Linked DNA regions of Homo sapiens. The protein of the gene in region 1 interacts with the protein of each later gene in a pairwise test. Each region holds a gene or a part of one and is shown in the gene's direction. Other genes may lie near its edges. The genes, in order: BFSP2, CAGE1 and CCDC183.

Evidence for each region.
Region 2: the proteins of BFSP2 (region 1) and CAGE1 interact in a two-hybrid assay, tested with the Homo sapiens proteins (one large-scale study listed by BioGRID and IntAct).
Region 3: the proteins of BFSP2 (region 1) and CCDC183 interact in a two-hybrid assay, tested with the Homo sapiens proteins (one large-scale study listed by BioGRID).

The regions. Positions count from the first base shown.
Region 1 is NC_000003.12:133,402,939-133,406,588, forward strand, and holds part of BFSP2 (phakinin), read left to right. Parts: intron 1-3,650.
Region 2 is NC_000006.12:7,383,146-7,386,795, reverse strand, and holds part of CAGE1 (cancer-associated gene 1 protein), read left to right. Parts: intron 1-923; coding exon 924-1,011; intron 1,012-3,650.
Region 3 is NC_000009.12:136,802,724-136,806,373, forward strand, and holds part of CCDC183 (coiled-coil domain-containing protein 183), read left to right. Parts: coding exon 1-63; intron 64-1,203; exon of another isoform or gene 1,204-1,778; coding exon 1,779-1,904; exon of another isoform or gene 1,905-2,038; coding exon 2,039-2,093; exon of another isoform or gene 2,094-2,633; coding exon 2,634-2,734; exon of another isoform or gene 2,735-2,861; intron 2,862-3,326; exon of another isoform or gene 3,327-3,354; coding exon 3,355-3,515; intron 3,516-3,650.

The DNA.
Region 1 (3,650 bases):
AGCCTGGAGTTACTTTTTCTATATTGCACAGCCCAGCCTTTCAGCCATATTAAACTCTATTCCATCAAGAAGAACAAAAGAAAACTCCATAATTGAGAAATGCTCCTGATTTTTTCAGTGAATCTGGCCTCGTGGAGCTGCAGGAGGCCCCCACCAGGCCCCCACCCCTTTCCAGGCCTAGAGGAAAGGCCACCTCCCAGCCCAGTCCTTCCACAACACGCTGCCTTCATCTCACTTGGGGTCAGAGGCAGCCACTCTGCGGTCCTGGGCCCCAGAAATCCAGAGCTCTCTCCCTCTGCCCTCACTTAGGCCACTCTGGCTGGGGCTTCATGCCCACCTTTCCAGACTCTGGGCTCTGGTGTTCCGTGCTCCTCACAGCACTCCTTACCCCTCCTGTTTCTCCACCTGCAGCTGCCTCTTCCCCCCCTTGTCCACAGAACTCCTCCTGGTCCTGCAGCTCAGTTCCATGGCAACCCTCTGTGACTCCTCAGGGCCCATGCAGGGCCTGAGGCCTCAGAGCAAGCTCTCAGCAACTGAGCCCCAAGTTGGCACCTAGAGAGAAATTCGACCTCCTTAGCCTGGGCCCCAAACAGAGAATCCAAGAGAGACCTCAGTCACTCAATAGCACGGTGGGGATGTCCATTTTGGTGGCACTTTCTTGGATCAGGCTGGAGCAAGCAGTGGGGAAGGTCAGAGCAGGCAACAATTTCCATAAATGTTTGGGAAACAACATTTCCTCTTGCTTTCAGAGGGGGAGAAGAGTTGGAAAGGAGACAGGCTCTCCTCCCTGCCATCACCACCCCAGCTAGCACAGAAAGCTCCTGGGGCCATTCTGGGGAGTGGGGGTCCCCTGTCCCCTGGAATCTCCCCACAGCCTGTCTCACCCCCACCCAGAGGAGACAAAGACAGGTTTTCAGAAAAGCCAGGAAGAGGAGCCAGGAGGAGGGAAACAATTGCTGTCACTGTGCAGAGAGTCACATCATGGAAAGCAACACGAAACTAGGGTGCCAGGAGGGCTCACACCATGGCAGAATCAGGAAGGCCGTCCTGGGGAGGGGGGAATCTTCCTCATCCTTATATCACTATGTAAGTTTGGGGCCAGGGTTGGCTCCATGGGTGCACCACCAGTGAAGTCTCATAGGATGCTGCACTGGAGTGCAGCGATGCCATCAGAGATCACTGCAACCTCAAGCTCCTGGCCTCAAGAGATCCTCTTGCCTTGGCCTCCCAAAGGGCTTGGATTATAGGTATGAGGCACCGTGCCCAGCCAATAGTTTTATCTTTGAATTTGTGTTTTAAAAGTGAAGTCTTGTGGGACAATGGAGTATGGACCAGGGGCTCTTGAATGGTCCTACCTCCCTCTGTCTCCCTACAACAGGTTCTTGGCCCACCTCTCTGCCCCTGGGAGCCCCTTCTGACACCTGCTCCAAGCCCCTGGGTGGCAGCAACTGGAGGGAGAGGACAAGCCTCTTGCTCACCCCCAACCCAGGTACCTACAGGTGGCACTGAGGTCGTAATATTCTTGGGGGTTATCACCCCACCCCACCAGCAGGACATGGTACATCGGTCCAATGGCCGGTAAGAAAGGTACCGCAGCCATTGGTGGGGTATGCACATGCCCAGAATCATGGAGCGAGGCCTCTGGATGCCTATAAAGGTCTGCATGAGCATCCCCATTCCCCAGGGAGTGGAAATTAAATAGCAGATAAAAATTACCATAACAAGTTGAAACATGACAGAAGAAAGGAAAAAGCATTATATTTGAGTAACTTAAATCGCACTTTGTTCCTGCTCTTTGAACATGGGGCCCCACATTTTGCACTGGGATCCGCAAATTATATAGCTGGTCCTAGTTAGGGTTCATGCATATGAAGTTCTGTTTCAATTCCAAACCTCTCTCCTCCCACTCCTCAGCTGTGTTAGAACCTCCAAGCCTCGCTAAGTGGTGAAAACGGACAGAAAAACCCCAGGTGGCAACTACAGAGGCTGAGGAAGACCTGGGCCATTTCCCTCTCCAGCCTTGCTCTGTGCTCCTGACTTTTCTTACCAAATGAACGATGCTGACAATAGGCTCTGATGGCAACATCAGGCCCTTTCATCCTCAAATAGGCCAAACACAAGCTTGGAATAAGGCAGCCTTGTGCCTCGGAGCTGCAGATGAAAGGAGAGTGGGGTCAGAGGAGCAGCCCTCAGAGACCAGGTGTCAAAACAAAAGGAACAGCTGAAGCCAGGGGGAGAATGAAGCTGCCTGAGGAAGAAAGGGGAGCGCAGAGGTTCTAAATTAAGGAGCCAGGACATTTGTCTAGGTCTCCATGGGAGAAAACTGCAGCTTATACCTCCAAAGGATAAGGCTGTCAGCTGGAGAAAATGGGAAATCAAAATTGTTGAAAGGCAAAGGATTAGAGTTTAAAATGGACCTGATTTGACTATTTTTCCTGCTGTTCACAGCCCGTCTTTCTGTCCCTTGCACAGAGACAGCCCATACTCAGGGAATCTGCCTACTTGAAGAACATGCTGGAAACTCAGGCAATCCAGATCTGGGCCAGGTTTCTCCCACAGAACTTGTGGTCCTAGAAGGCTCTCTTTTTAGAAAAAAAAAACAAGAACTAATCCTTCTCCACTGAGAATAAATAAAGGCAACAGGGTTTGTTGTTCATGATTTACAACCTGGTATCCCTGGAAAGTAGGTGATGGGGGCAGAATCATAATCTGCAAAGGCCTGAACACATTTCCCCAAGAAAAAGTCACTCAGCCTGTTTCTTAATCAGTGCAATTTGTTTGGTCAGAGCAGGCCAGTGGGGCGGTTTCTTTGTCAGCCAAGCTATAAGGGACACTACAGTATGGTTAGAAATGTAGCTACCAGAGAAAAGTCCGTTAGAGAGATTCATTCCTCTTAGGAAGAGTGAGGTATATGATTGGAAGAAATATTTTGATGGGAGAGGGGGAGAAGGAGGCATGAGCCTGCTTCCCAAGGGTCTTGTTCATATAATACAGGTGGCCACTAAGCCTCTTTATTTATTTTTATTTATTTATTTTTTGATATGGAGTCTCACTCTGTTGCCCAGGTTGTGGCGCAATCTCGGCTCACTGCAACCTCCGCCTCCCGGGTTTAAGCGATTCTCCTGCCTCAGCCTCCCAAGTAGCTGGGATTACAGGTGCCCACCACCATATCCAGCTATTTTTTTTTTTTTTGTATTTTTAGTAGAGACAGGGTTTCACCATGTTGGCCAGGCTGGTCTCAAACTCCTGACCTCAGGTGATCCACCAGCCTTGGCCTGCCAAAGTATTGGGATCACAGGCGTGAGCCACCGTGCCCAGCCAGTCACTAAGCTGCTTTCTAAGAAAGGTGGTTTCTGGAAGTTGAATGTGTCTGGAAAGCAAGAGAACTGCTAAAGAAAACAGAGGGAGACTAGGGTGTGGCACTCAGGGCCTCTTTCCATGCCCCTCTCATACACCACACTCGGCCACTCTTAAACCTCTTAAGATCTCTTAAAATGTGAGTTCCATGTTGGGAAATGGAAGACAGGGGGTGGGGTCAGTTTTCCATGAAAACTAGGGAAAATTAGATGTGATGCAAAGACTGGGGATTTTGAAGCCAGACAGCCCCTAGCCTTGCCGCTTGCCATCTACCAACCGTGTGATCTTGAGCC
Region 2 (3,650 bases), on another chromosome or scaffold:
GGGCAACATGGTGAGACCCCATCTCTGCTAAAAATATAAAAATTAGCCAGGCATGGAAGCGAGCACCTGTAATCCCAGCTACTCTGGAGGCTGAGACAGGAGAATCACTTGAACCTGGGAGGTAGAGGTTACAGGGAGCCAAGATCGCGCCACTGCACTCCAGCCTATGCGAGAGAGCAAGGTACATTTTTACACACAGTGTTAAAACTGATCCTTTCTAGCCAGGAGTGCAGCCAGGGGACGTGACCAATTCAGTCAGAGGCAGGACAAGAGCCCAAGGAACCTGACTTCTAGTCTAATGCATCTTCCACTTACATCAGTATGCAAATGATTCAGTTGTCATTCATAATGACATTGACAGCACCCTGCATATAAATGACAACTTTCCTGTCTTCATGAAAATGCCTAGCTCCCTTTATTAAAAAATAAAAGATTGTAATGTCCCAATATCTTCATGAGTGTTGTGCTAAACGTTTGATAGTCAGTGACATCTGATTCCACTAAATAGGAATTTATAAAAATACATCAAAGATATATGCCTGTTTTATATATCTTCAGTGTTAAAAGACTGAAATAACCATCTTAATGCTGTTTAGACTAGATTTAATAAACATCAAATAATTATCAATACATAAATATGCTATCACGTATCCCTAAGTTTATAGTCACATGATTTGACTTACCAAAAAACCAAAATATTAAAATAACAAGCTATTTGTTACATTGTTGTTTAATATTGGGACTCTGTTAGCATAGTTTTACTAAAAGGGAGCCAAATACATGCTGGGGAAAGATACTAGAAAGCACATTCTACCTATGTAATGAAATATTCTAATAGCAGAATTATGTAACAATGTGCAAATACCTTTAGAAGAAGCTTGTGATGTTTGCTTGAAGTATTGATGCCTTTTTTATTAATACAGAACGAAATAAAGAATTTTGAAAGGGAAAATGAGTATGAATCCACACTTTGTGAAGATGCTTATGGCACACTAGACAATTTGTTAAATGGTAAGTATCTACTTGTTAGCAATATGCAAAAGAGAGAAACTTTTTTTTGTGTTCCGTGATAGTAACAATAGCCAGGTTTTGTGCTAAGCACTTTATATACATCATCACACTTAATCCACAAAAAAATCTTATTGAAATAAGAATTTTAAAAAATTGAAGTAAGGGCTGTTTTTATCTTCATTTTACAGATAAGGAAAATAAGGCTCAGAGAGTAACTTGCCCAGGATTGTGTAGCTTTAAATGAATGAGCCGTGATCAAGTCTCAGACTCAGACACAAAAATTTTCTACTATACAAGTATCCTTAAATGTGTATTGAGGTTGGGTGTGGTGGATCATATCTATAATACCAGTGCTTTGGAAGGCCAAGGCAGGAGGATTGCTTGAGCCAGGAAGTCCAAGGCTGTTATGAGCTATGATCATGTCACTGCACTCCAGTGGGCAACAGAAGGAGAACCTGTCTCTTAAAAAAAAAAAGCGGGGGCCAGGCACGGTGGCTCACGCCTGTAATCCCAGCACTTTGGGAGGCTGAGGCAAGTGGATCACCTGAGGTCGGGAGTTCAAGACCAGCCTGACCAACATGGAGAAACCCCGTCTCCAGTAAAAATACAAAATTAGCTGAGTGTGGTGGTGCATGCCTGTAATCCCAGCTACTTGGGAGGCTTAGGCAGGAGACTCCCTTGAACCCAGGAGGTGGAGGTTGCTGTGAGCCGAGATTGCACCATTGCGCTCCAGCCTGGGCAACAAGAGCGAAACTCCATCTCAAAAAAAACCAAAACAAACAAAAAACACCAGGTACAGTGGCTCACACCTGTAATCCCAGCTCTTTGGGAGGCCAAGGCAGAAGGATTGCTTGAGTCCACTAGTTTGAAATCAGATTGGGCAATAGGACGAAACCCCGTCTCTACTAAAAATACAAAAAATTAGCCAGGCATCGTGGTCCATTTTGGAGGCCTGGGTGGGAGAATTACCTGAGCGCGGGAGGCTGAGACTGCAGTGAGCCGAGATCACGCCACTGCACTGCAGCATGGGCAACCATAGTGAGACCTTGTCTCAAAAAAAAAAAAGAGAGCTGTGTGTTGATTTAACCCCAAATCTGTTATTCTAATCCTAAATTGACAGATGAAAGCTATTTAGGATTTAATCATATAATGAGATACATTGATCATGTTTTTGGTTTTGTTTTTGAAATGGATCTCACTATGCTGCCCAGGCTGGTCTCAAATTCCTGGGCTCAAGTGAGTCTCCTGCCTCGGTGTCCCAAAGTGTTGGGATTACAGGTATCAGCCACCACACCGGGCCCTACACTGATCATGTTTATTAAAGTAAATCTAAATGCTGTATACAAATGTCTTTATTTTTAATACTTGCAAATAATACTAAAATGAAAAGATTTGACAAGGCTTATTGAAATTATGGAATTTAATACATGCAGGTGTAAGAAAAATAAGCGCTGCCGAGGCAGGCGGATCACGAGGTCAGGAGATCGAGACCATCCTGGCTAACATGGTGAAACCCCGTGTCTACTAAAAATACAAAAAATTAGCCGGGCATGATGGTGGGCGCCTGTAGTCCCAGCTACTCAGGAGGCTGAGGCAGGAGAATGGCATGAACCCAGGGGGTGGAGCTTGCAGTGAGCCGAGATGGTGCCACTGCACTCCAGCCTGGGCGACAATAAGTGCTATAAGGATTAGAAAGGAAGAGAAGTAATTATCATTATTTGCAAATATGTACTTTTCTACATAGAAAAGTCATAAGCACCTACAGATGAGCTATTAAAACTAATAAGAAAGTTTAGAAGAAAGCTAGATATAAAATTAATATTAAAAAACCAATAGCATTCAATGCACTAGCAACAACAAATGTAAAACAGTAATTCTTAAAAACTTACTATTATCAGTAACAGCACAAACTAAGGTACCTAAGAATAAATCTAACAAAAAGTGTAAGTTTCCATTAAAAAACATTATAAAACTTTCCTGGAGGCCATAAAAAATAATTAAATGTTTCATGTTCAGATTGTAAAGATGTCAGTTTTCCTGAAGTCTATTGATTAATGCAATTTCATGTATCCTACCTTAATCCTAACATCCCCATTCAGAAGTGAAAAAGTTAAAAAAAATACCCAATACAATTTTGAAAAAGAAGATGTGGAGACTTACCCTGCTAGATAACAAGAGTTATTAGTTATAGTAATTATAACAATGTATTATAGGCAGAAGGGTAACAAACCAGTGGGATAAATAAAAGACAAAGTCCAAAAGTAGACCCATTTATATATGAGGACACCTGGTATTTGATAGAGGTGTCATTATAAACCAGTGGGGGTGTTCATTTGGTTGTGCTGGAACAGTTGGCTCTCTCAATGCAGAAAATGATTAGAACCTTACCTCACACCAAATACAAAATAAAGTCCACATGGGTAAAGGCCTACATGTGAACTGCAAAGTTCTAACTTATAAAAGAAGTGTAGAAAATGCTGTATTAGTCTGTTTTCACACTGCCATAAAGAACTACCTGAGACTGGATAATTTATAAAGAAAAGAGGTTTAATTGGATCACAGTTCCACATGACTGGGAAGGCCTCGAAACAGAATCACGGCACAAGACAAACAGGAAGCAAGGCATGTCTTAAATGACG
Region 3 (3,650 bases), on another chromosome or scaffold:
TCAGAGCTGTCGGATATGAAGATCATGTCCCAAGATGCCATGATGATCACGGATGAGGTCAAGGTGAGCTCAGGGCCCAGGGCTGGGGGCCCCCCAGGGCCAGCCCTCTTGGATCTTCGGATGGGGTCAAGGTGAGCTCAGGGCCCAGGGCTGGGGGCCCCCCAGGGCCAGCCCTCTTGGATCTTCGGATGGGGTCAAGGTGAGCTCAGGGCCCAGGGCCGGGGGCCCCCCAGGGCCAGCCCTCTTGGATCTTCGGATGGGGTCAAGGTGAGCTCAGGGCCCAGGGCTGGGGGCCCCCCAGGGCCAGCCCTCTTGGATCTTCGGATGGGGTCAAGGTGAGCTCAGGGCCCAGGGCCGGGGGCCCCCCAGGGCCAGCCCTCTTGGATCTTCGGATGGGGTCAAGGTGAGCTCAGGGCCCAGGGCTGGGGCCCCCCAGGGCCAGCCCTCTTGGATCTTCGGATGGGGTCAAGGTGAGCTCAGGGCCCAGGGCTGGGGGCCCCCCAGGGCCAGCCCTCTTGGATCTTCGGATGGGGTCAAGGTGAGCTCAGGGCCCAGGGCTGGGGCCCCCCAGGGCGGGCTCTCTTGTGTCTTCTGGCCAGGGTCTCTCAGGAGACCCCCATGCCCACACTGCCTACAATCCCCAGAAGGATCCAGTGGCCAGCCCGGCCAGCCTGCTCTGCTCACCCACTGGACAGAGCAGGTCCCATCCAGCACAGGAGCCATGAAGTAGAGGAGAGGGAGAGAACTGGCCGGGCCAGGGCGGGGGTCACCTATTCACCCAGTCTGTGCCAAGGTCCCTGCAAGGCTCTGGGGATACAGCAGGGACCGGGACAGGCAGACCCTGTCCTCCTGAAGTGGGTGGCACTCATCCAGTAGTCCATGAAGAAATGCCACACAGCCCCTGAGCCAGCTCAGCAGAGACAGGTGGGGTGGCAGATGGCTTTCCAGGAAGACAGTGCTTGAGCTGGGCTGAGGGATTGAACCCGCAAAGGTCAGGTGTGGCCAGGGCTAGGGAGGAGGAGGTACAACTTGGGAAAAGGCCCTGGGCTGGGAGGGGTGTGATACATGGAGCAGCGTGTGGCCAGGGCAGTGGAGGCTGCAGAGGCACAGGCCCCAGGAGTCCACGGAGGCGGCTGGGCTGGGGGCCCAAGGACTGACCTGGAGCCCTGGGAGGAGGTGGAGGAAAGATGTGACCAGGTCTGTGCTTCAGAAAGGGTGTACTCAGGCTGCAGGGACTGGAAGGTGCCAGGGCAGAAGCGCTGATCACCTGGGTATACCCGGGGTGGAGAAGGGGTGGCCAGGAGCAACGGAGCTGAGAACTCCTCAAGAGGCAACCCCACTAAGCGCTGGCAACGAGAGTGGCGAGGGTGAGAGCAGTGTCTGGGGTGCGTGAGCAGGGGTTAGCAGATGACGGTTTTAGCTGCCCAAGGGCACGCTGGAAGAGGCCAGGTTTTGGGGAAGAGGATGAATCTGTCTTCAGGCAGGCTGAATGCACTTCCGTGAGTTCTAGGTGGACCTGGCCAGGAGGCAGCTGGGGGCCAGCGGCTGGAGGGCAGCAGAGCGTCTGGGCTGGCACATGCTCTGAGGCATGGGCAAGGAGGGCCGTGAGCTGAGGGGCCACGGGCACAAGTGGTTTAGGAAAAGGGTGTGGCCATTGGCCGGGGATGCAGTTCCAAAGTCTAGTAAGGTGAGCATGGCCAACCGCCCGCTGGCTTTACTGCCATTAGGGGCCTTGTTGAGACAGCTCCCCAACCCTGTGCCCACCCGCATGTCCCCAGAGGAACATGAGGCAAAGGGAGGCGTCCTTCATCGAGGAGCGCCGGGCAAGGGAGAACCGGCTCAACCAGCAGAAGAAGCTGATCGACAAGATCCACACGAAGGAGACCAGCGAGAAGTACCGCCGGGTAAGCCCCAGGCCAGGGCCTGGCTGGCTGCCCATCCCCATGACAGCTGGGTGGACACAGGCTCAGGGCCACCACTCAGGGCCCACTCCCTGCCAAGGATGTCTCATCCCTTCCCCGCCCCCACCTCCCATCAGGGCCAGATGGACTTGGACTTCCCCTCGAACCTGATGAGCACGGAGACCCTGAAATGTAAGCGCTCAGCTCCCCACCTGCCCCCAGCCAGGGTCCCAAGGAGAGGCTGGCACTGATTCAGGCCAACGGATCAAGTCACCCTGAGGCCAGGTGTGACATGTGGTCGCCAGGGTGAAGGGAAGGACAGGTCCCTGCCTCTCCCTCCAGAGGCTGAGAGCCTGTAGCCAAATGTGGCCTCAGAGATGCTGGCCCCAGCACCCAAGGGCCCTGCACCAAGGGCCCAGTCCCCAGTGACTCTGCAGAGGATGAGCATCCTGACCCCTAAGCTGCCTCTGAGAAGCACCACCGGGCCCACAGTGCTCACAGTGCTGCGCCACTCACTCCGGGTCCACCTCTGCTCTGGGGCTGCCTGGGGCGTCCCTGCAGGGCTGGGCTGAGGAGGGAGCAGGTTGGGGCGGGGGCAGGCATCTCTGAAGGATGCCTGTGTCTTGGGTGGCCGCCCCAGCAGCTGGGCAGGTACAGAGGTGTCTGACAGCCTTACACAGAGCCCCTGAGCCATCCCTGCATGCTGACTGCCCCTCCCCTCTGCTCTGCCAGTGAGGAGAAAAGAGACCTCCACAGCAGAAATGGAATACCAGTCGGGCGTGACTGCTGTGGTGGAGAAGGTCAAGAGTGCTGTACGGTGCTCTCACGTCTGGGTAATGCCCCTGGCGCTCCCAGAGAATGGCAGGAGGGTGGCTGAGCCTCTCACGTCTGGGTAATGCTCCCTGGCACTCCCGGAGCATGGCAGGAGGGTGGCTGAGCTGGGCTGGGGTCTGAGGCACTCTGAAATGGACACACAAAGTGGCAACTCCCTCGGCCGCCCCAAATCCTTTTATCTTAATCCCATCTGTGTATCTGCGTTTATTATTATTAGGCCTTGAGCTCCTAACCACTGCCCTGACACAAGCTTGTCCACTGTCAGACAAGTGACTCAAGTGACACAACGTCCTTCAGTGATGATCTCCTTATCTCTACATGGGGTTATCTACCCTCTCTGCCTGCCATTAGGGTCGTGTGCAATGACATCCACAAAGCGCTTCACCCCTGCTAAGTGTGGTGGTGCACACCTGTGGTCCCAGCTACTCAGGAAGCTGAGGTGGGAGGATCGCTTGAGTCTGGGAGGTTGAGGCTGCAGTGAGCTGTGATCACACTTGTGAATGAGCACAGAGAAAGTGCACTAGCGTCTAGGAGGGGCCCAGAAGAAACCAGTTCTGTGAAGCCCCCTCTGCCCACCATCCTGGCCCACACCTGCTTCTCTCTCCCCCGGACTGGCCAGGACATCACTAGCCGCTTCCTGGCCCAGAGGAACACGGAGGAGAACCTGGAGCTGCAGATGGAGGACTGTGAGGAGTGGCGGGTGCAGCTGAAGGCCCTGGTGAAGCAGCTGGAGCTGGAGGAGGCCGTGCTCAAGTTCCGCCAGAAGCCTAGCTCCATCAGGTGCCCCGGGCTTCCGGGGCTGCGGGCCACCCACCCCAGTCTCACAAAGGCCCCGGGCTGCAGCCAGGCTGGGAGCTGGGAGTATACCCACTGCCAACAAGCCTGTGTGTCCCACAGAGGGGCCAGGGGACTCCA